Homo sapiens: one gene and its partners. The protein of the gene in region 2 interacts with the protein of the main gene of each other region in a pairwise test. Each region holds a gene or a part of one and is shown on either strand. Other genes may lie near its edges.

The links.
Region 1: the proteins of TBC1D23 (region 2) and CAGE1 interact in binary tests that used the Homo sapiens proteins (3 or more experiments, as listed by UniProt).
Region 3: the proteins of TBC1D23 (region 2) and WDR62 interact in binary tests that used the Homo sapiens proteins (3 or more experiments, as listed by UniProt).

What each region holds. Positions count from the first base shown.
Region 1 is NC_000006.12:7,372,191-7,380,203, reverse strand, and holds part of CAGE1 (cancer-associated gene 1 protein), read left to right. Parts: intron 1-1,183; coding exon 1,184-1,587; intron 1,588-6,072; coding exon 6,073-7,131; intron 7,132-8,013.
Region 2 is NC_000003.12:100,277,508-100,285,520, forward strand, and holds part of TBC1D23 (TBC1 domain family member 23), read left to right. Parts: intron 1-2,141; coding exon 2,142-2,253; intron 2,254-4,234; coding exon 4,235-4,340; intron 4,341-6,099; coding exon 6,100-6,304; intron 6,305-8,013. UniProt on the Homo sapiens protein: Putative Rab GTPase-activating protein which plays a role in vesicular trafficking. Involved in endosome-to-Golgi trafficking.
Region 3 is NC_000019.10:36,064,433-36,072,445, forward strand, and holds part of WDR62 (WD repeat-containing protein 62), read left to right. Parts: intron 1-1,525; coding exon 1,526-1,583; intron 1,584-1,824; coding exon 1,825-1,995; intron 1,996-2,873; coding exon 2,874-3,011; intron 3,012-3,395; coding exon 3,396-3,578; intron 3,579-7,123; coding exon 7,124-7,284; intron 7,285-8,013. UniProt on the Homo sapiens protein: Required for cerebral cortical development. Plays a role in neuronal proliferation and migration.

The DNA of each region.
Region 1 (8,013 bases), on a different chromosome or scaffold from region 2:
ACAATCTGTTAGCTGTAGTTTTCACTATAAACCCATACTATAGTCCTTCCTATGATGTCTTATTTGTAAAGGTAGGTTTTTGGAGGTTGCTATAATAAAAAGCAAGTCCCGTATGAAAATCATTGTGGAATAGGAAGTGAGAGTGGTGGTCTCCAATCTGATTCCACGATTTGAGGTGCTGTACGGTGCCTAACAGTGTACATCCAAGTAGTAAAGTGTGGTTGTTTAAGAATAAAATATTATATTTTTCTTTTAGTTTATGTGTATTTTCAAACAGCTAATAACTTAGGACAAATACTAGTTTGAACTTAATTATTTACTAAATGGAACTTAAGTATTCCTTTTGGTCCAGAGGTACTGTGAAAAAAAGTACTGAGACATTAAGGGTGTCACAAAATGAGGAAATCTGGGAACTTTATTCTTTGGCAAGATTATGTTGATTTTATTATTTAGGATACATAAATCAGTAGTAAAAGTAAAATGGGAATGGGAAGAATGAATACATATGGGCTTCAGTACACTGGTTATCTCTGGGGAGGAGGAAAGTTAGATAAAAGGGATCAATAATTTGTAACATTCTGTTTTCTTATTTGCTCCTGATTTTAAAAAACATTACATCTGCATAATTTGTCATATTGAAAAATAGTATAGCATAGCATTTAGAAGTAGTAGTCTAGAATCTCAGCAGCACTGCTTAGCAGCTCTGTGACTTTGGACAAGTGACTTTAACATCTCTTACACTTCAGTTTCCTTATCTGTAAAATAGGGATAATAACAGTACTGACATCATGGGATTTTTGTGAGATTAAGCAAGTTTATATGTGTTTTCTATTATACTATCCTTGTCCTTTTGAAACATTGTATAATTTAAAACATCTTAAAATTACAGTACAACAAAAGAATTTTGAAGATCTCTTGAAATTTATTGTAATTTTATTTGACCAGAATTACATATAACACACTTTTTCCTAGCAGTCATTTGGGGACTTCTTTCCCCCATGTAAAAAGTTTTGTTTTGTTTGCTAGCACAAAACCATGCTAAAATTCACACAGTAAATAAGGTTGAAATAATATATAATTTTTAAGTGGCTACAGCAGTTTATTTGATAAATATAAATATAACTGTTACCATCCAAGTTCATGGTCTACTCGTTTTTATTTCCTTCTTTCTCTTTCTTATGAGATAACAACATTGAAAATTACTCAACGAATGCACTAATTCAGCCAGTTGACACCATCAGCATATCTTCCTTGAGACAATTTGAAACCGTTTGCAAATTTCACTGGGTAGAAGCATTTGATGATGAAATGACAGAGAAGCCAGAATTTCAAAGTCAAGTGTATAATTATGCAAAAGACAACAATATAAAGCAAGACTCATTTAAGGAAGAAAATCCAATGGAAACTAGTGTTTCTGCAAATACAGACCAACTTGGTAACGAGTATTTTAGACAGCCTCCTCCTAGAAGCCCGCCTCTAATCCACTGCAGTGGAGAGATGCTGAAATTTACAGAAAAGTCACTGGCTAAAAGTATTGCCAAGGAATCTGCCCTCAACCCTAGCCAACCTCCAAGCTTCTTATGTAAGGAAAGTGTACACAATAATATTGTAAAACCATTTGATAAAGAGAATAGTTCTAACCTAGTTCATCTGAGAGTTAATTATAAAGCAGAGGAGGTACGATTGTGATGGTCAGTAAAGCCTGTGGAGTATTAAAGGATGCATTTTAAAAATTGTATATATATATATATAATCTGAGACTTTTCCAAGTAGTGTTAAATCACCTAGTTAGCATGAGGGACTTTGCTTCTCTGGGGAAAATGCATTCTGAGATCTTAGCCAATTCAGAAATAAATTTTTCTAGTAAAATCAAGTCCATACTTGAGGATTAGCTCTACCAAATGGTAATTTCTCTAAGGATCAGGACTGTCTTACTCACCCTCTTATGCACCACAGCGTCTATATGTTTCCTTGAATATAATAAGCTTTTTTTACCATAATTTTTTTTCACCACAAACAAGTTTATTAGAGAAGTAAAGAAACAAAAGAATGGCTACTGTGTAGACAGAGCAGTCTGAATATAATAAGCTTTTATATTTGTTGAATCAAAATGGCTGGAAGTAGCAGAGTTTACACTGATGGAAAGGTCAAGAAGAGGAAGGAGTGCAGAGGCACTAATTCATTTTTCAAGAAAAACAAGATTTCTCTGTCATATTGGAATTCTACTGACAAGCAAAAAATACTACTTTTTCTACTAAAGTGAAAATATTAGTTTATCATTTGGTTTATTGATTCCGAGCACACATGTAGTATCCTAAGAGCACTGAAGATACCGACAGTATATATTCTGTGTACTTTCTGAACAAAAAAATTAAAAATACTAGGAATTGGTATGGGAAAATAGATAAAATTCAAGAATAGTATAAGTAATACCTTTTCTCTTTTTTTGTTGTTTTGTTTTGTTTTTGATACGGAGTCTCACTCTGTTGCCCAGGCTGGAGTGCAGTGGCATGATCTTGGCTCACCGCAACCCCTGCTTCCTGGATTCAAGCGATTGTCCTGCTGCAGCCTTCTGAGTAGCTAGGATTATAAGCGTGTGCCACCACACCTGGCTAATTTTTTTTTGTATTTTTAGTAGAGACGGGTTTTCACCATGTTGGCCAGGCTGGTCTTGAACTGCCGATCCACCCGCCTTGGCCTCCCAAAGTGCTGGGATTACAGGTGTGAGCTACCACACCTGGCCAATAATACCTTTCCAATGTGAGTTTGATGGGAAACACTATGACTATAATGTCTTATTTACAAGTATGAGCATTTTCATTTTTTTGAAAGTAGATGACAGCATTTAAAAGGACTTTATTTGTCCAAGTTGATTTCTGGAAAACAACCTTTTAAAAATCAGCTTAAATAGGGTTTCGCAAGATTGTTCTTTCCTCTTTTCATTGCATTTAGCCATTTTTCATTCAGTCAATAGATACTTTTAGGCATCTATTACATGGCAGGTCTGTACTACACATTAGGTGATGGTTAGAAAATAGACAAAAAGATGTAGTTCTTGTCCTCATGAAGACAGCATCCTACTAGAGGAGGTAGTCATTAATCAATCACACAAATAAATGTGAACTTGCAACTATAATAAGATCAATAAGGTGAATAAAGTTACATATAAAGTATATGTAGAGCATGTTATATAAAGTTACTATTTATGCTATGATGCTATATCAAGTTACAGATAAACTTGCAACTATGATAAGTGCTGCATATGTAAGTAGGTTGGGCATCTATGATAAGGACACTACCCTGATCAGGGAGTCTGGGGAAGGCATCCCTGAAGAAATGATCATTGAGCTGAGCTCTAAAGGATGGGTAGAAGTTAATTAGGCAGCCATGGGTAGGAGAGCCTTCCATACAGAAGGAAGAACGTCTGCAAACCCTGTGGCCACAGGAAGCATGGTACCTACTAGGACCTGAAGGAAGCCCTGAGTCCAGGAAGATCAGAGTTGGAGGAAGGAGGAGGGGTACAGCAGATGAAGACAGAGAGGTGGTGTGGGTCAGATACTGCTTTAGTTCATTTCATCTTGCTGCAACTATATCACAGACTGGGCAATTTATAATGAATAACAATTTATCTGGCTCACGGTTCTGGAGGCTAGGTCCATGGTGCCAGCATCACTCGAGGGTCTCTGTGCTGTCATTTCATGGTGGGAGGTGGAGGGGCAAAAGAAGGTGAGATCGAGGGAGCAAGTGGAGGCCAAACTAACTTTTATTTTATTTATTTATTTATTTATTTATTTATTTATTTATTTATTTATTTTGAGATGGAGTCTCGCTCTGTCGCCCAGGCTGCAGTGCAGTGGCACCATCTTGGCTCACTGCAACCTCCGCCTCCCGGGTTCAAGCAATTCTCCTGCTTCACCCTTCCCAGTAGCTGGGATTACAGGTGTGTGCCACCACGCCCAGCTAATTTTTTGTATTTTTAGTAGAGACAGGGTTTCACAGTGTTAGCCAGGATGGTCTCAATCTCCTGACGTTGCGATCCACCTGCCTCGGCTTCCCAAAGTGCTGGGATTACAGGTGTGAGCCACCACTCCCAGCCCCCAAACTCACTTTTGTAACAAATCCACTTGTGATAACTAACACACTCCTGTGATAACAACATTTAGTCATTTTTATTCACCTCTTACTAGGCCCCGTCTTCCAACACTGTTGCACTGGGGATTGGGGATCAAGCTTCCGGCACGTTAACTTTAGGGGATGCATTTAAAGCACAGCAGATATCAAGAGCAAGATATTAGGGCCTTGTAGGTCTCAGTAATGATAGTTATCTTTATCCCAGAACAATGAAAAACCATTAAGATACAAGGTTCTGCAGAAGGATGAGCTCAAAAAACAAAATACAGAAGTCCTTGTCTCTAAATTCCAGAGAATTATACAGCACACCACTACAGATACCTTTTACTGGGTTTTTACTTATTTATTTATTTTAGATACAAGGTGTCTTGCTCTGTTACTCAGATTGGAGAGCAGTGTGATCATGGCCCACAAGAAATCCTCCTGCCTCAGCTTCCCAAGGAGCTAGGACTACAGGCACATGCCACCACACCTGACTGATTTTTAAAATATTTTTTTTGAAGAGATAGGGTATCACTGTGTTACCCAAACTGGTCTCCAACTCCTGGTCTCAAGGAATCCTCTCACCTTGGGCTCCCAAAGTGTTGGGATTACAGGTATGAGCCACTGTGCCTGGCCTGGGTTTTGTTTTTGTTTTTTTTGTTTGTTTGTTTTTTGTTTTTTTGAGACAGAGTCTCGCTCTGTCGCCCAGGCTGGAGTGCAGTGGCGTGATCTCGGCTCACTGTAGCCTCCACCTCCAGGGTTCAAGCAATTCTCCTACCTCAGCCTCCCGAGTAGCTGGGACTACAGGTGCACACCGCCACGCGCAGCTAATTTTTGTATTTTTAGTAGAGATGGGGTTTCACCATGTTGGCCAGGATGGTCTTGATCTCCTGACCTCATGATCCACCCGCCTCAGCCTCCTGAAGTACTGGGATTACAAGCATGAGCCACTGCACCCGGCCCTGGGTTTTTAATGTCATATTCATTTCACCATTTCTTACCACAAATTACTGTCTTTTTTTATTTTTATTTGTTTATTTTATTATTATTATTTTTTGAGACAGAGTCTCGCTCTATCGCCCAGGCTGGAGTGCAGTAGTGTGATCTCAGCTCACTGCAACTTCCACCTCCTGCGTTCAAGTGATTCTGCTGCCTCACTCAGCTTCCCAAGTAGCTGGGATTATAAGCATGTGCTACCATGCCTGGCTAATTTTTGTATTTTGGGCAGAGATGGGGTTTTATCATGTTGGCCAGGCCGGTCTCAAACTCCTGACCTCAGGTGATCCACCCACCTCAGTCTCCCAAAGTGCTGGGATTACAGGCGTGAGCTACCTCGCCCGGCCTACTGTCTTTTTATAACCTCCTCGAGACCTCTATCGGCAGCATAAAGTCAATCATGAGGCATGTTCTTCTGCCATTCTAATGTTCCTGAGAGTCACAGAATAATGAGATAATGGTCTAAATGTGGAATAAAAAATATTCAAAAGAGAAGAGAACTTTCCCCCCTAAAAATCCAAACTTTTGGCCCAGTAATAACATGTAAAAAAAAAAAGAGAGAGAACTTGCAGTCTGTAAGGTAATTGATACATTTATTTGTCTGAATTTATTTGAAGTCAAAGCATCTTATATGTGTTCAGAGAAGTTTGCATAATAGAAAATGGTAAGAGGATGAAAGTTTAATTTTCCTTTTGTCAAAGTAAATGGGATGTATATCTGTCATATACCTACTGCCTGTGCCCTGCTGTGCTGTTAGGTGCTGTACAAACATTTAGCAATTAATACATAGGTATTAACTTTTGTTAATAGGCATTATTATTGGAAGTAGATACTATTGTTACTTTATAGCGGAGAAAGCCAAACAGGGGATCTACTAATAGAATTCAAGGCCAGCCCTATTTGACTTGAAAGCTCATTATCTTTCTACTCGTTCACACTTACTTTGTTTACTATAATTTACAGACTGCAGTTCCTTCAAAAGAAATACAGAATTATGGGGAGATTCCTGAGATGTCAGTCAGTTATGAAAAGGAAGTCACAGCAGAGGGTGTGGAGAGGCCAGAAATTGTCTCAACTTGGTCTTCGGCAGGCATTTCCTGGAGGAGTGAAGCATGTCGGGAGAACTGTGAGATGCCTGACTGGGAGCAAAGTGCTGAAAGCTTACAACCTGTTCAAGAGGACATGGCTTTAAATGAAGTCTTGCAGAAATTAAAACATACTAACAGAAAGCAGGAAGTGCGAATCCAAGAACTCCAGTGTAGTAACCTGTATTTAGAGAAGAGGGTTAAAGAACTACAGATGAAGATTACCAAACAGCAAGTGTTCATTGATGTCATCAATAAGCTAAAGGAGAATGTTGAAGAATTAATTGAAGACAAATACAAAATAATCCTAGAGAAGAATGATACTAAAAAGACATTGCAGAATTTGGAAGAGGTTTTAGCTAACACGCAAAAACATCTTCAGGAATCCAGGAATGACAAGGAAATGTTACAGCTTCAATTTAAGAAGATCAAGGCTAATTATGTGTGTTTACAGGAAAGGTACATGACTGAAATGCAACAAAAAAATAAATCTGTAAGTCAGTATTTAGAGATGGACAAAACCTTAAGCAAGAAAGAAGAAGAGGTAGAGAGACTACAACAACTCAAAAAAGAACTGGAAAAGGCCACAGCTTCTGCTTTGGACTTGTTGAAACGGGAAAAAGAGGCCCAAGAACAAGAGTTCTTGTCTTTACAGGAGGAATTCCAGAAACTTGAAAAGGAAAACCTGGAAGAAAGACAGAAACTGAAATCTAGACTTGAGAAATTGCTCACTCAAGTTAGAAATTTGCAATTTATGTCTGAAAATGAAAGAACGAAGAATATAAAACTTCAGCAGCAAATCAACGAAGTAAAAAATGAGAATGCAAAACTTAAACAGCAGGTTGCAAGGAGTGAAGAGCAAAATTATGTCCCTAAATTTGAGACAGCTCAGTTAAAGGATCAATTAGAGGAAGTCTTGAAGTCAGATATTACCAAGGTATTGATACACATTCTAAATCTCTAATGCGGAATTTCAAGAGTTTCTAGTGGTCTAGTGATGCGTATTTAGACGTGGCACTTATATTTGTTTGCAGAAAGAATTATTAAAGAAAGAAACAGATCTCGGCACTTTGGGAGGCTGAGGCAGGAGGATCTCTTGAGGCTAGGAGTTTGACACCAGCCTAGGCAACATAGTGAGACCCCATCTCTACAAAACATTTTTTAAAGCAGCCAATCTGTCATGCATGGTGGTGTGCGCCTATAGTCCTATCTATTCGGGAGGTTGAGATGGGGGAATTACTTGAGCTCAGGAGTTTGAAGCTGCAGTGAGCTATGATTGTGCCAGTGCACTCCAGCTTGGGTGACAGAGCAAGATTCTGTCTCAAAAAAAGAAAAAAAGAAAAAAGAAAAACAGATATGGAAAGGAAAATACACCACAGGTTTGGAGAAGTTTCTTTTGGTTCATGAATATTCAAAGAACAGCTATTCCTGCCTTCTTGTGGTTCTTTTGGTAGAGGTGGCCATTAACGTGGGAATTTTGTGGGTACTCATTGCCAGTCATCAAAAGCATCTTCCAGCAGTTACTTTTTTTTTTTTTTTTTGAGACAGTATTGCTCTGTCGCCCAGGCTGGAGTGCAGTGACACGATCTTGGCTCACTGCAACCTCTGCCTCCCAGGTTTAAGTGATTATCTTGCCTCAGCCTCCGGAGTAACTGGGATTACAGGCGTGCGCCACCATGCCCAGCTAATTTTGTATTTTTAGTAGAGATGGGGTTTCACCGTGTTGGCCAGGCTGGTCTCGAATTCATGACCTCAAGTGATCCACCTGCCTCAGCCTCCCAAAGTGCTGGAATTACAGGTGTGAGACACTGCGCCCAAC
Region 2 (8,013 bases):
TTGTGATTTAAAAAGTACTTTGAGGATTGGGCATTTTGCAACAAAATACAAGCTTTGTTCTCTGGAATAGTAGGGGATTTGGCAAAATTACTTCAAAAAGAAAAGGATTTTGCACTAAAAAGTGAATAATTCTAATTCTTCATCTAGTAAAATAATTTCATCCCAGTAAGTAGTGTTTTTAGTCCCTCATTATTTGACACATTTGACCATTTAAATATATGGTATTTATTCACCAAAGATGCCATTAAATTTTCTTTGTTTCATGGTTACTAACAGCCTGCCTTGTACATTTTGGCCAGAAGAGAAGAGATAAACCCCAGTTTTTATCAGCTATAGGCCTGAACTCTCAACAGTAGACTTGAAATCTTTTTCTCTACCTCTCCCTTCCAACACTTTGGTGACCATATAGCAAAAGAACTAAATGTTTCTTGTGTGGTTATTAGTTATCTTCTGTTCATATGAATTTGTAGTAGCTTTGTCAAGGAACCTTTCAAATTCGATGAGTACTTTTCTGTTGAGTATGATCCTAAGTGATTACATTTTCATTTAATTCCTTTCTCTTAGGAGAGCAACGCTTTATGAAATTTATACATTTAAACTAATATTCTTAGATGCCTATCAGTGGGGAAGTTTTCATTGTCTTAGTGAAAAAAATGAAGAGTGGGAATAATTTATTTTCTTCAGAACCACCAAAATGGGACAGAAATCCTGATTTCCTGATCCTAGTGAGATCATCTGCCTTTTAGGCTGCTTCAAAGAATGTTACAGATTGTCCAGGTTATGAAGCTCTTAAAAATTTGTACAGATTTTTAATGTATGCTGAAATCATAAACAATGACTGAAACCTCAGTTTTTGAAAATTCCTAAGGAATTGATTGATTTTTTTTTTTTTTTTTGAGACGGAGTCTTGCTCTGTCACCCAGGCTGGGGTGCAGTAGCATAATCTTGGCTCACTGCAACCTCCGCCTCCTGGGTTCAAGCAATTGTCTGCCTTAGCCTGCCAAGTAGCTGGGATTACAGGGACCTGCCACCACAGCCCGCTAATTTTTTGTGTTTTTAGTAGAGACGGGGTTTCACCATCTTGGCCAGGCTGGTCTTGAACTCCTGACCTTGTGATCCACCCACCTTGGCCTCCCAAAGTGCTGGGATTACAGGCGTGAGCCACTGCGCCCAGCTGGAATTGATAATTTAACTGGTTATTTTCTGGCTAGAAAACAATGTATACTTTTGTAAAAGTATTCTTTTAATTATTTTTACCTTATACAAATGAAATTAAATTCATACTTTTCTCCTTAAACATCGTAGACTGAACAAAACTGCTTGGTAATTTACTTGATGATGTGATATTATTCTTTTGCTTTAATATACCAATAGATCCTTTTTTCCCTCTAACATTTATTTAATACTTATTGTAGGCTAGGCACTGCTCTAGGCATGATACTGATGTAGTCATTTACTAAATAGTCTCAGGCTGCAGTGTTTTGAATTCTTGGCTGAATTGAGCATAATGTTAAGAACACGAATTCAGGAACCAGACTGTTAAAATTTGAATCCTGGCTCTACTGCTGATATGACATGTGACCATAATATGACATGTGACCCTATACCATAATACTGGTAAACACCTAAAAGAACAGTAACTTTTTAATACCAATGAAGTTATTTCTTCAGTTGTCCCCTAAATGTCTATAACCCTTCTTTGCCTCCATTTTTGCATCTGTACGTGGGGTCAGTGATGTAACCTACCTCATAGGGATTGTTATGAGGATTAAAAAGAACACATAAAATGTTTGAAATAGTGCCCCACACATAGTTGCTATGTAAAGTTATTACCACCACCAGGAATACTGTTATTACTATGACTTCACAGTGCTGTCAGCCAGCTTGCCCCATCTCCTCTTTAAATTTCTCTAATCTAGGAAAAGACAACCAAACTAAGGGTAAAATGAGAGTAAATTGACTGTATGAAGCCTGAGATTTCCCACAAGAAAACATGCTGTGTATACCTTGGCATTACATTTTGGTTGCTGAGAACTTTTGTTTCTTAGACAAGCCTTTAATAGGCCATGCTTATAAATGAATCTTGAATAAGAAAAAGTATGAGATAAAGTTCATTTTAATAAATAGGACTTATTTTTTAGGGAAAAAGATCTTGAAGAAGCTCTGGAAGCAGGAGGTTGTGATCTTGAAACGTTGAGAAATATAATTCAAGGAAGACCGCTGCCTGCTGATCTGAGGGCCAAAGTTTGGAAGGTAACTAGAAACTAAAATGAATAAAATGTAATCACTGAAGAATAATATTTTTAAAAGTTTGTTGCTTCAGATGTCTTAGTTGCAGAAAACTTTATTACCTTATGAGCATGCCGCATCTAGATTTATCAAACAGCAGCTTATTAAAATGTTTGTTTCTGTAGTGTTTGGTATATTTAACAATAATGGCTTAGATTTTGGAATGTAATATATGCTTTTGTAGCCATTAGAAATGGTGTTTATGGGGCCAGGCACAATGGCTCATGCCTATAATCCCAACACTTTGGGAGGCTGAGGCAGGCAGATCACCTGAGGTCAGGAGTTCAAGACCCGCCTGGCCAACATGGTGAGACCCCATCTCTACCAAGAGGCCGAGGCAAGAGAATCGCTTGAACCCAGGAGGCGAGGCTACAGTGAGCCGAGATAGCGCCACTGCACTCCAGCCTGAGTGACAAAGTGAGACTCCATCTCAAAAAAAAAACAAAAAGAAATGGTGTTTATGAAAATTTTCTTGAAACAAGATACAATCAGTGAGTAAAATAGGATGTATATTTGCAGATACAGAATGATCATAACAATGTTAAAAATAAAAAAGGAAGTATGCCTCTGGCTGTTGGGTTATAGGAGATTTTCCCTTTGTTTTCCTCTATTCAGCTATTCTACAGTTCATGTGTATTATTATTTTTTAAAATTTTGAATTAAGGCATTGTTATGATTACAAAAGAAATACATATATTTGTGGAAATATATACAGCATAACAACCACAAAGGATAAAATAAAAATCTGTTACCTACCACCTATAGGTAAAACAGATGAGGTCTTGGTGCTTACCTTTTTACCTTTTTGCCCTATGCACATATGTAACAGAAATGGAATTAAAACTGTACACAGCATTCTGAGCATTTTATTATAGAAGTTTAAGCACATGCAAAAGTGTAGAACTTGTATAATGAACTCCCATGTGCCCATAACCCAGCTTTAACTGGTATCAACATTTAGCCAGTGTTGTTTGATTAGTATCCTCATCCTTTCCTCCCCACCCAACTCACTGGATTGTTTTAAAGCAAATCCTTGCTAGCATACTAAAAGTCTGAAACGTTTAAAAGAATGGTAATTCCTGGCTGGGTACAGTGGCTCACACCTGTAATCCCAGCACTTTGGGAAGTTGAGGCAGGTGGATCACCTGAGGTTAGGAGTTTGAGACCAGCCTGGCCAACATGGTGAATCCCCATCTCTACTAAAAATACAAAAATTAGCTGGGCGTGGTGGTGGGTGCCTGTAGTATCAGCTACTTGGGAGGCTGAGGCAGGAGAATCACTTGAACCCGGGAGGCGGAGAGGTTGCATTGAGCCGAGATCGTGCCACTATGCTCCAGCCTGAGCAAGAGAGCGAAACTCAGTCTCAAAAAATAAAAAAGACTGGTAATTCCTTAATATCATAAAATAATTTCTTCAGTTGTCTCATACATGTGTTTTTATGGGTGATTTGTTTAAATTTGAATTCTAGTAGGTCTACCTGTTGCATTTGGATATGTCACTTAAGATTCTTTAAATCAATACAGTTTATTTTACATTTTAAAAAAAACCTTACAAAACAGTGAAAACATTTGCTCAATTTATTAAGTATTCTTTTGTATAATTTTAAAATGTACATGGCACAGATGTACTTTTTCTTTGCCAGTACATTCTGTTGTTTTTACATTAAAAAAATTGATTGTGTAAATTTACATATCTAAATATATAAATATTTTGGGTAATTTATTGTATTCACTAAATCAACATGAAGAAATATCTAATGTAGGAGGACTTAAAATAATTCTGCTGGTTGTGACATGACTAAATACTCAACATTTGGTGGAGTATGGATACCTTAATTGTAATCTTTGTTATTATTTTTAAATTCAGGCCTTTAATTATTACAGCATATTTTCCAAGAATGAGGAATAACATATGAAGCTAGTCACTTTTTAAATCTTTCTTCCAGATTGCTCTGAATGTTGCAGGAAAAGGTGATAGTTTGGCATCATGGGATGGTATTTTAGACTTGCCAGAACAGAACACTATTCACAAAGATTGCCTGCAGTTTATTGGTAAGCTGAATAATCACTTTCAAGCAGAGTTAAATTTTGGAAATAATTTTTGGGTTGAGGAATCACTCTTCAGAATAATCTTATAATTTCAGAATTTGTAAAAGGCTTGTAAATAGCTTTAGAACTTTTCTTTGGAAATTCTTATGAAATATTGTCTATTAATTTTAAGGGAGCCTAGTTTTGACTGGGTGCAGTGACTCACACCTGAATCCCAGCACTTTGGGAGGCCAAGGCAGACAGATCACTTGAGGTCAAGAGTTCAAGACCAGCCTGGCCAACATGGCAAAACCCTGTCTCTACTAAAAAATACAAAAATTAGCCAGGTGTGGTGGTGGGCGCCTGTAGTCCCAGCTACTTGGGAGGCTGAGGCAGGAGAACTGCTTGAACACAGGAGGCAAAGGTTGCAGTGACCTGAGATCACACCACTGCACTCCAGCCTGGGCACAGAGTGAGACTCTATCTCAAAGAAACAAAAAAGATAACCTAGTTTTTACTGTTTCTTTTGCATTATATGTTAGATTTTTCATGTACATTTATGGGTTTGTTGTAGTCTTAAATTTGATTTTTATATAATTAAAGATCTATATGATTGTATGCAGCCCTCAAAGGGGAGCTTTGTTCCAAAAGTTTATCTATAAATCATAGTTTGTGGACTGCTGTAGAGAAACTACTATAAATTGTGATTGAATAGGTTTCCAGTCACCCCACAACATCTATTTCATTTCACAATGTGGATGAATTTAGTTTATACTTCTTTTAAATTCATCTCTAGTGCATTGTATTTTTGTTTCTCTTTCCATCATATTTTAGTTAAATTATTAGCTTGATAGGCCTATGTGTGGTAAGCACAGCAGAAACATTATTGCTGGTGTGGACAAAAGAAAGAATTTGATAGTGGAGAATGAATTCCTTTCCCTCTTCTTGCCAAAATTATAGCAACAACTGCCCATCATGGAGTAGGTGATAATCTGTTTAGAAAACCCTTTTGCTTCCCAGGAATATGGGCTATGCCTATCTTTACCTATCCCTTTAATTCAGATTGGCCATTCTTATGTTTGACATATATATAGATCAGGTATTACTAAGTGCTAATGTTTAGTAAATACTGAATGTATAGAAGTCTTCTGTTTCTTTCCCTTCTCTCTCAACAGACTAGGTAAGAAAACATGCTTAAGTGAAACTGTTATTCTTAATTTTCTTTAAATTTTCTTTAAACTGTCTTAAAGTTAAAAGACTGTTAGAAGGCCAGGCACAGTGGCCCATGCCTATAATCCCAGCACTTTGGGAGGCCGAGGCAGGCAGATCACCTGAGGTCAGGAGTTCGAGACCAGCCTGGCCAACATGGTGAAACCCTGTCTCTACTAAAAGTACAAAAATTTAGTTGGGTGTGGTGGTGCTTGCCTGTAATCCTGGCTACTCGGGAGGCTAAGGCAGAAGAATCACTTGAAATCGGGAGGTGGAGGTTGCAGTGAGCCAAGACCGTGCCATTGCACTCCAGCCTGGGTGACAAGCTAAACTCCGTCTCAAAAAAAAAAAAGGCTGTTATAAAGCGTTTTGACTGTGTGTTTTCCTTGGGTTTTGGATCTGTGAACCAATGATTGTTAAAATAAGTATAAGGGAAAATATACTTTCATGTAGTTTCACTTTGTCTTTCTCTAAATGCACTAACATAGTATTATATATTTGTAAACAAGTGTTATGTCCAATAACAGCCCCTGACAGGCCCTCAGTAACTTTATTTTTAACATTTATTTTCTAGACCAGCTTTCAGTGCCAGAGGAGAAGGCAGCAGAATTACTTTTGGATATTGAATCTGTAATTACCTTTTATTGTAAATCACGTAACATTAAATATAGCACATCCCTTAGCTGGATACATCTACTGAAACCATTGGTGCATCTTCAACTGCCACGCAGCGATTTATACAACTGCTTTTATGCCATAATGAATAAGTACATTCCCAGGTAAAATATGATTCAGTTATTGTAGTTTTTAAAAGTGAATACAGGCCTGGTTTGCTTTGAGCTAAAGTTGCTAGATTTACTTTGGCGGTAAAGTAAAAGGTTCAAATAATTTTGAGGATTGTTTGATCCATAATTGTTATTTTATTTTTGTGGTTATAAACATTTTTTAAAAGATTCTTTAGTTAAAAATGTATACTTCTGAAACAGTGGTTATACTGGGGTTGGAGTTGGGGAGGAAGTGGGGAGATTTAGGTCAAAAGGATACAAAATAGCAAATAGGTGTGATGAACAAGTCGAAAGACCTAATATGCAATGTGGGGACTCTAGTTAATAATAGTCTATTATATTGAAGATTTTTGCTAAATAAGTAGATTATAGCTGCTTTTGCCACAGAGGGGAAATTGGGAATATGAGATGATAGGTGCATTATTTTGTTCCACAATAGTAACCATTTTACTATGTATGTGTTTTTTATAACGTGTTGTATAATGCACAGAAATTTATTTTTAAAAAATAATTTAAAAATTAAAAATTTCTAGAGTTTATATATATAATTCTTCCAGTTTATTTGGTGGTATCCCTATTTTAATTTATTTGCCTATAAAATATTACAGTGTTCAGGTGAAAAGTAAAATTTCTGGGGTGTTACCTTATTGAGCTTGGAAGGAAGTCCTAGAAATATAGGCATTGAACAAGTAAATTGAAGTGTGCTGAATGTTAGAAAGGTGAAATATAGAGTGCTATGGGGATGTATAATGGGGGCAACCTAACTTACCTTGGAGGTCAGGGATGGCTTTCCCATGGTAAGTGGCATTTGAGACCAGACAGATGTGCAGGTGGTTGTGATGGGGGTTGTAGTGGGGGTCGTGGTGGTGGGCAGCACTCATGAGGCCAGAAAGAATTGTTGTAGTTCCCAGTGCAATAGATCAGATAGTTAGAATTTTAGTACCAAAAGAAACTTTAGACATAGTCTAGACTAGTGGCTTGGCTGTACAACCTTGAATGCACATTAGAACTATTGGGGGAGCTCTTAAAAATCCTAATGACTATTTGCATACATGAGTAATTAAATGAAAATCTCTTGGTGATGGGACCTAGGCATCAGTTTGTTTAGAGCTTACTAATTAATTTCAGCGTGTAGCCAAGGTGGAGAACCGCTAATCTGGACCTTGATAGTTAACTGACTCTTATTTTTTACTACTTTCTAAGTGATACCACACTGTATGAGGTATAAGTGTTTTGTATGGTTCTCTACCCTGGTTGCTTGTTAGAATCAACTGAAGCACTTTTTCTTTTTTTAAATAACGACTTTATTGAGATATAATTTATATTCCATAAAATTCACCATTTTAATGTGTACAATTCACTGGTTTTAATTATAGTCACAGAGTTGTACAGCCATAACCACAACCAATTTTAGAACATTTTATCACCCCAACAAGAAATCCCCTTCCCGTTAGTGGTCAACTCTCCATTTTCCCCCAAAATGGGGGGAATGATTGGTATGATTCTGTATATAAGGAATCATACCTTATATGTTTTTGTGACTGCCTTTAATGTTTAGCATTATGTTTTCTAGGTTCATATTGTATCATATATCTTATTTCATTTCTTTTTTTGCCAAATTTTTTATTGTATGCGTATACCGCATTTTATTTACCTATTCATCAGTTGATGGATATTTGGATTGTTTTCACTTTTTTACTATT
Region 3 (8,013 bases), on a different chromosome or scaffold from region 2:
GCCTGGCTAATTTTGTTTTTGTATTTTTAGTATAGACAGGGTTTCACCGTGTTAGCCAGGGTGGTCTCGATCTCCTGACCTTGTGATCTGCCCACCTCAGCCTCCCAAAGTGCTGGGATTACAGGCGTGAGCCACCGCGCCCAGCCCCACTTCTTTTTTTCTCTAGACGGAGTCTTGGTCTGTTGCCCAGGCTGGAGTGCAGCAGCACGATCTTGGCTTGCTGCAACCTCTGCCTCCCGGGTTCAAGCAATTCTCCTGCCTCAGCCTCCCGAGTAGCCGGGATTACAGGCTCCTGCCACCACACCTGGCTATTTTTTGTATTTTTAGTAGAGGTGGGGTTTTGTCGTGTTGGCCAGGCTGTTCGCGAATTCCTGACCTCAAGTGAACCACCCACCCCTCTGCCTCCCAAAGTGCTGGGATTACAGGCGTGAGGCACCGCACCCGGCCCCCATTCCTTCTCTCCTGTTCCACCCCATTTATTGTGAGGCTTCTGGTCTTGAAGTCACTTCATGGCCCAAGATGGAGTTCTGGCTGTCGTGTGCGTATTTCAGGAGGGGAACTGGTAGGAAGCAGGGCAAAGGGTTCCCTTTGACGAGTATTTCAGGAAGTCCCACACAGCATGTCAGTTTACTTCTCCTTGGCCAGACTAAGTCATGTAGCTGTACCTGCATAGTTGCAAGCATAAAACTGGGGTTATGTCAGTAAGGAAAGAGAGGCGAGTGGATATCCAGGAGGCAGCTTGCCCTGTTTGTTGCAGTAAGGAGCCACGGGAAGCCTGGGAAGCAGGTTGACTTGATGATGAATATTCCATGAAGTTGCCAAAGTCTCACTTAGCGACATTTACTTAGTTATCTACACACCAATTTACCATCTCACGTAGGGAGACAATTATTAGATTGTTAAGGAACAAAGGTAAAAATAAGATTAAAAGAGAGAAGGGAGTAGAAGGAAACCATACAATCTGGGAACAGTGAATCTTGCTGCCAGAAACCTACGAGCTAGCCTGTTCATTCAGTGCTTGTGCAGGCTAGCTAGGAGTATCAGAAACATTTTGGCTCTTTATGGATTTTCCAGAACACCTTGAGTATTTAGCAGTGGAGCACAGGCTGCAGGCTACCTTGATGTGATGCCTGCCAGGATCCTCCCATCAGCACCACCCGTTTAGTTAGGCCAGGCCTGTACCATTTCCTGCATCTCTATTTCTCAGTGTTACAGGGTGGATAGGGTCTTAGGATACCCACTGCGGCAGAGGGAGAAGAAAGCAGGGTCCGCATACAGTGTCTACTCCATTTGGGTTTGGTGTCTCAGGGCGGAAGGGGCCTTTGCATTTACCCCCATTTCTCTGTGTGCTTTGCTGGGCACACCAGCGGCACTGGCTCTGTGGGAGCTGCTTGAGCTCACCTCTGCTGGCCTCTTCCGAGGCTTGGGAGGCAGAAGAGGGCAGAGTCCTATCAGAGTCGCCAGGATGGGGTCTGGCTGGCCACCCTCAGCGGAACCAGTGATCAGCTCTTTTCTTTATCCCCAGGAAGTCTCTCAGTGCTCTGGCCTTCTCCCCTGATGGGAAGTACATAGTGACAGGGGAGGTGAGTCGTGATCGTGACTGAGTGGGAGTCGGGGGCTGGGGGGTCTTGGAAGCCATTCCTTCTGCTCCCGGCAGGCCTGGGAGTCCCTGGAATAGCTCCTTCCTGGGCCAGAACAGCCCTGTAGCAGATGGGGGAGGTGGCTTTTGGGCACATCCTGTGGCAATGCCATCTTCGGCCTTGACAACCCTCTAGCCCTGCCCAGTACAGAGCCCAGCAGCAGTAACGACCCCACCTTCCCTAGAATGGGCATAGGCCTGCTGTGCGCATCTGGGATGTGGAGGAGAAGAATCAGGTGGCGGAGATGCTAGGCCACAAGTATGGTGTGGCGTGTGTGGCCTTCTCACCCAATATGAAGCACATCGTGTCCATGGGCTACCAACATGACATGGTGCTCAACGTCTGGGACTGGAAGGTAAGAGCCGACCAGCAGGCCTGTGGCAGGCAGCCAGCTGCCACAGCATCCTATGTCTTGGGCACAGGGAGAGCTACATGAGAGGACGCAGTAAAGTGCTCACTCACCCAACAGATAACAGCTATTGAGCACCTGTGACATGCTGATCCCTTATTGTAGGGCACAAGGCAGGCTCCCAGCTAGAAGCATTATACATATTTTTATATTGACCAGCTGTGACCTTAGGCAAGTGACTTAACATCTCTGTGAGTCTGTTTCCTCCTCTGTTAGATGGATATAGTAGTACTTATCTTGTTGAGTTGTGAGACTTTAATGAGTTGATAAGCACTGGAAGGCTGGGCTTTGGAACAGCTGTGGAGCTGGCAGAAGTGGGTACCAAGTCCTGGCTCTGCCCATAACCCACTATGTGACCTTGAGCACATGACATCTCCCCCTCTGAGCCTGGTAGGGTTGGGGAGAAGCGCCTCCCTCGTGGGGCTTTTGAGGGATTGAGGAAATTTCATGGGTTATCCTGTGAAGGGCTCAGGGCAGGGCCCAGAGCAGGAGCCCCATCTGTGACAGCCATAGGTTGTGTTGTCCTTACATCCCAGCCGTGACTGTCCCCAATACCATGTGTGGGCTGCAGAGCTTAGACCCTTGGAGAGAGCTCTGGAACATACTGTCCCATGGGGACCATTCCAAGCCTCTGTCCCTTCCTCTGTCGGTGAGGAATGAGCAGGGTGCCCCACATAGGTTTCCCCATACAGCAGCTCCCTGGAGGGTCCCAGGAAGACAGACTTGGAGTGGGGACGAGCAGGGAGTTCCAGCCTGAGGGCAAAGGCACAAACAGTCCAGTGGAATGAGTGCTGGCATGAGCTTCTCTGCACTTATTCTTCCAGAAAGACATCGTAGTGGCCTCCAACAAGGTATCTTGTAGAGTCATTGCCCTCTCCTTCTCAGAGGACAGCAGCTATTTTGTCACTGTTGGGAACCGCCATGTGAGGTTCTGGTTCTTGGAAGTCTCCACTGAGACAAAGGTGAGTTTCTGTCCCTGCCCCTTTAGCCAGGCCCTGAGGGAGTCACCATCGGTGGCAGCATGGTCTCCTGTTTCTCCCTGAGATTTGAGGGCAGCGGTCTCGGGCCATTTGGCCTCTCAGGGGCCCAGCTGCTGCTTCTGGGCCTACTCTCAGGGTGCTGATGCACAGGCCCTGCCAGGAACCCCCTGACCCTGGGACCAGCTCTCATTCTTGGACTGCTGCTGTCCAGCCCCTCTGTCCAGAGTGGCAGGGTTCTAGTGTTTTCTTCCCTTCTCCATTTGGAAGAGCTTCTTAGAGTTCTCCTGTTTTGTTGTGTCCTATCATCTGGTCATGCAGGGCCCAGCTGTGTGGACAAGTATCTCACTACGCCCTCTGTGTCTCCAGGTGACGAGCACAGTGCCCCTTGTAGGGCGCTCGGGCATCCTGGGCGAGCTGCACAACAACATCTTCTGTGGTGTGGCCTGCGGTCGGGGCCGGATGGCGGGCAGTACCTTCTGTGTGTCCTACTCGGGCCTCCTCTGCCAGTTCAATGAGAAGAGGGTGCTGGAGAAGTGGATCAACCTGAAGGTACCACCTCCCTCTCTGCCATCAGCTGGACAGACTCTTTCTCGTGATATGTGTCTGCAGGGGTGCTCATCAGCATTGACCACACAGGTTCTGCTTATGTGACTAGTGGTGAATGACGCCCACTCTCTGAGCTTAAGGTTCCACATCTGTAAAATGGGAGTACTGCTGCCCTCCCCGCAGAGCTGATAAGGAAGTCACGTGAGATAACATAGGCAAGGCAGTGAGCACGGTGCTTGGTACCCTGAAATGGGCTCAAGGTGACAGTTGTTTTCCCATGACTATTTGATCTACTTCACATTTCTTTTCTCCTTTGAGCACTCTGGCTGGTAGAGGATTGCATTTTTTTTTAATTAATTTATTTTTTTTTATTGATCATTCTTGGGTGTTTCTCCCAGAGGGGGTTTGGCAGGGTCTTAGGACAATAGTGGAGGGAAGGTCAGCAGACAAACAAGTGAACAAAGGTCTCTGGTTTTCCTAGGCAGAGGACCCTGCGGGCTTCCGCAGTGTTTGTGTCCCTGGGTACTTGAGATTAGGGAGTGGTGATGACTCTTAACGAGTCTGCTGCCTTCAAGCATCTGTTTAACAAAGCACATCTTGCACCGCCCTTAATGCATTTAACCCTGAATGGACACAGCACATGTTTCAGAGAGCACAGGGTTGGGGGTAAGGTCATAGATCAACAGCATCCCAAGGCAGAAGAATTTTTCTTAGTACAGAACAAAATGAAGTCTCCCATGTCTACTTCTTTCTACACAGACACAGCAACAATCTGATTTCTCTATCTTTTCCCCACCTTTCCCCCTTTTCTATTCCACAAAACCGCCATCGTCATCATGGCCCGTTCTCAATGAGCTGTTGGGTACACCTCCCAGACGGGGTGGTGGCCGGGCAGAGGGGCTCCTCACTTCCCAGAAGGGGCGGCCGGGCAGAGGCACCCCCCATCTCCCGGACGGGGCGGCGGCAGGGCGGAGGCGGACCCCCACCTCCCTCCCTGACGGGCCGGCTGGCTGGGCAGGGGCTGACCCCCACCTCCCTCCTGGACGGGGCGGCTGGCCGGGCGGGGGCTAACCCCCCACCTCCCTCCCGGACGGAGCGGCTGGCCGGGCGGGGGCTGACTCCCCCCACCTCCCTCCCGGACTGGGCGGCTGGCCGGGCGGGGGCTGACCCCCACCTCCCTCCGGGACGGGGCGGCTGCTGGGCGGAGACGCTCCTCACTTCCCAGACGGGGCAGCTGCCGGGCGGAGGGGCTCCTCACTTCTCAGACGGGGCGGCTGCCGGGCGGAGGGGCTCCTCACTTCTCAGATGGGACGGCCAGGCAGAGACGCTCCTCACCTCCCAGACAGGGTCGCGGCCGGGTAGAGGCGCTCCTCACATCCCAGACGGGGTGGCGGGGCAGAGGCGCTCCCCGCATCTCAGACGATGGGCGGCCGGGCAGAGACGCTCCTCACTTTCTAGACGGAATGGCAGCCGGGAAGAGGCGCTCCTCACTTCCCAGATTGGGCAGCCGAGCAGAGGGGCTCCTCACATCCCAGACGATGGGCGGCCAGGCAGAGACGCTCCTCACTTCCCAGACGGGGTGGCGGCCGGGCAGAGGCTGCAATCTCGGCACTTTGGGAGGCCAAGGCAGGCGGCTGGGAGGTGGAGGTTGTAGCTAGCCAAGATCGCGCCACTGCACTCCAGCCTGGGAAACATTGAGCACTGAGTAAACGAGACTCCGTCTGCAATCCCGGCACCTCGGGAGGCCGAGGCTGGCGGACCACTCGCGGTTAGGAGCTGGAGACCAGCCCGGCCAACACAGCGAAACCCTGTGTTTGGTGGAGACCAAAAAAATACGAAAACCAGTCAGGCGTGGCGGCGCGCGCCTGCAATCGCAGGCACTCGGCAGGCTGAGGCAGGAGAATCAGGCAGGGAGGTTGCAGTGAGCCGAGAGGGCAGCAGTACAGTCCAGCTTTGGCTCGGCATCAGAGGGAGACCGTGGAAAGAGAGGGAGAGGGAGACCGTGGGGAGAGGGAGAGGGAGACCGTGGGGAGAAGGAGAGGGAGAGGAGGATTGCATTTTTTAAAAATTGGAGGTACCATTGATTTAATAACTTTTCAGTCAAAAAAGACTACACAAAATACATAAACTTTTATTTATTTTTATTTATTTTTACTTTTTTTTTTTTTTTGAGATGGCGTCTCACTTGTTGCCAAGGCTGGAGTGCAGTGGCGCAATCTCAGCTCACTACAAGTTCCACCTCCCAGGTTCAAGCAATTCTCCTGCCTCAGCCTCCCAAGTAGCTGGGATTACAGGTGCCTGCCACCACGCACAGCTAATTTTTGTATTTTTAGTAGAGACAGGGTTTTACCATGTTGGCCTGGCTGGTCTCGAACTCCTGACCTTTAGTGATCCATCCGTCTTGGCCTCCCACTGCGCCCGGCCATAAACTTTTAAACTAAAGCATGATCTATCGATACATTGCAGAGCTTCTTTCCTTTAGTATCTGAAGGTTTGAGTCAAAGCTGTTTTCCCATCTGGAATCAGTTGCCCATTTGGCTATCCGCCCGAGCGTTGTGGTTTCCTCTCCTGTTCCTGGCCTGCCTTTGTGACTCACTCTGGAGATCACCTTCGAGGTTAATGGCTTGTGGAAGAGTTCCAAGTTTTATCTCTGTCCTAGTTGGTTAAACATCATTTTCTCTTTTTCAAGCAAGTGAAAAGCTTTCAATAGATAGATGTTTATTTCCTAAGCACTAAATGACTCATAAATTAAGTCCCTGTAGATTTGGAAAAACTCCTTAAACTGTATCTAGAGGTCTAGCACTTCCTAGTAGGATAGACAGTCCTTTCTAGATACTGTAACTTTTTTCTGTACCGCTTTGGAGTACAGTCTTTATGAAGTTGTTTGTAAGCAAAAGGGAATAAAATTTAAGCCTAAAGGCTGGGCGCGATGGCTCACATCTGTAATCCCAATGCTTTGGGAGGCCAAGGCAGGTGGATCACCTGAGGTCAGGAGTTCAAGACCAGCCTGACCAACATGGTGAAACCCCATCTCAAAATACAAAAAATTATCTGGGTGTGGTGGCGGCCGCCTATAATCCCAGCTACTCTGGAGGCCGAGGCAGGAGAATCACTTGAACCCAGGAGGTGGAAGTTGCAGTGAGCCGAGATTGTGCCATTGCACTCCAGCCTGGGCGCAACAAAAAACTCTATCTCAAAAAAAAAAAAAAATTTAAGCCTAAAATTCAACCCTGTTACTACAAGTGACTTACCTGAAGTTGCAGTCTGCTGAACAGGTATTTTCCATACACAGCTACGTTTCTCTGTAGACAGCAGTGACAATTCTGTTTCCGTTCATGCCTCTGCCTACCTGCTGGCACATGTCTTTCAATAGCAGCAGTATGCTATATCCTGATTTCACAAATCTTAAAATATGCTAAAATGGGTGTCTTAGACCCAAGGAACTGTAAGTCTTCTCTGGAGGCCTAAGGCTGCTCTGTCAGTCCCCATATCCCCGGGCCAGGCCACGTGAAGCACCAAATCCACTGGGGTCCCTTTTGCCCCTACAGGTCTCCCTGTCTTCCTGCCTCTGTGTCAGCCAGGAGCTCATCTTCTGTGGCTGCACAGATGGGATAGTCCGCATCTTCCAGGCCCATAGCCTGCACTACCTCGCCAACCTGCCCAAGCCACACTACCTTGGGGTAGACGTGGCACAGGGCCTGGAGCCCAGGTACTGCCCTGTGGGGAGAGGGAATGGGAGGGGCCCACCCAGAGTCTGTCCACTGGCATTCATCCATGCTTCCAGATCCATCTATCTGTCTGTCCATCCCACAAATACCCATCATGACTCTCAGCCCTGGGCATTACAAAGCAGAAAAGTCCTTGCCTTCCGAGGCAAGCCTCACAGTGAGAAGTGAGGCTGGGTAGGGGGAAGAAACAGTGAGAAAACAAAGGAATAATATCATTTCAGATAGCGGTCAGCATGGTGAAGAACAGTGCAGAGCAGGTGTGAATGTGGCGGAGTGTTTCCATCCACATGGCTGACCCCTACTAAGTGGCTGCTAAGTGCCAGCCCTGGGCTGGAAGCAGGACATGCCTATTATAATGAAGCAGCAAAATCTCTGCCTCTCTGCAGTATAGCAAGGGGGCTCGATGATAAGCAAGTACACGAAAAAGATAATTTCAATAGGCATGAGTGCTTTGGGGAACACAGCAGGGACTCGGGAAGGAGAGTGACTGGGGTGGGCTGTGCTGATTGGGTGCCTGGTGAGAAGGAGCTGCTGTGTGGAGAGCTGGGTCCCAGCAGTTGAGGTGACAGCACACTGGGCTTGTTACGTTGCAGGAATAGTAAGGGACTGTGTGGCCAGAGCCCAGTGTGTCCGGGGAGGATGGTGGGAGATGAGGCCAGTGTGGGGCGCCTGTAGTCTATCCTCAGGTCAGTGGGCAGTTGCTGGGGTTT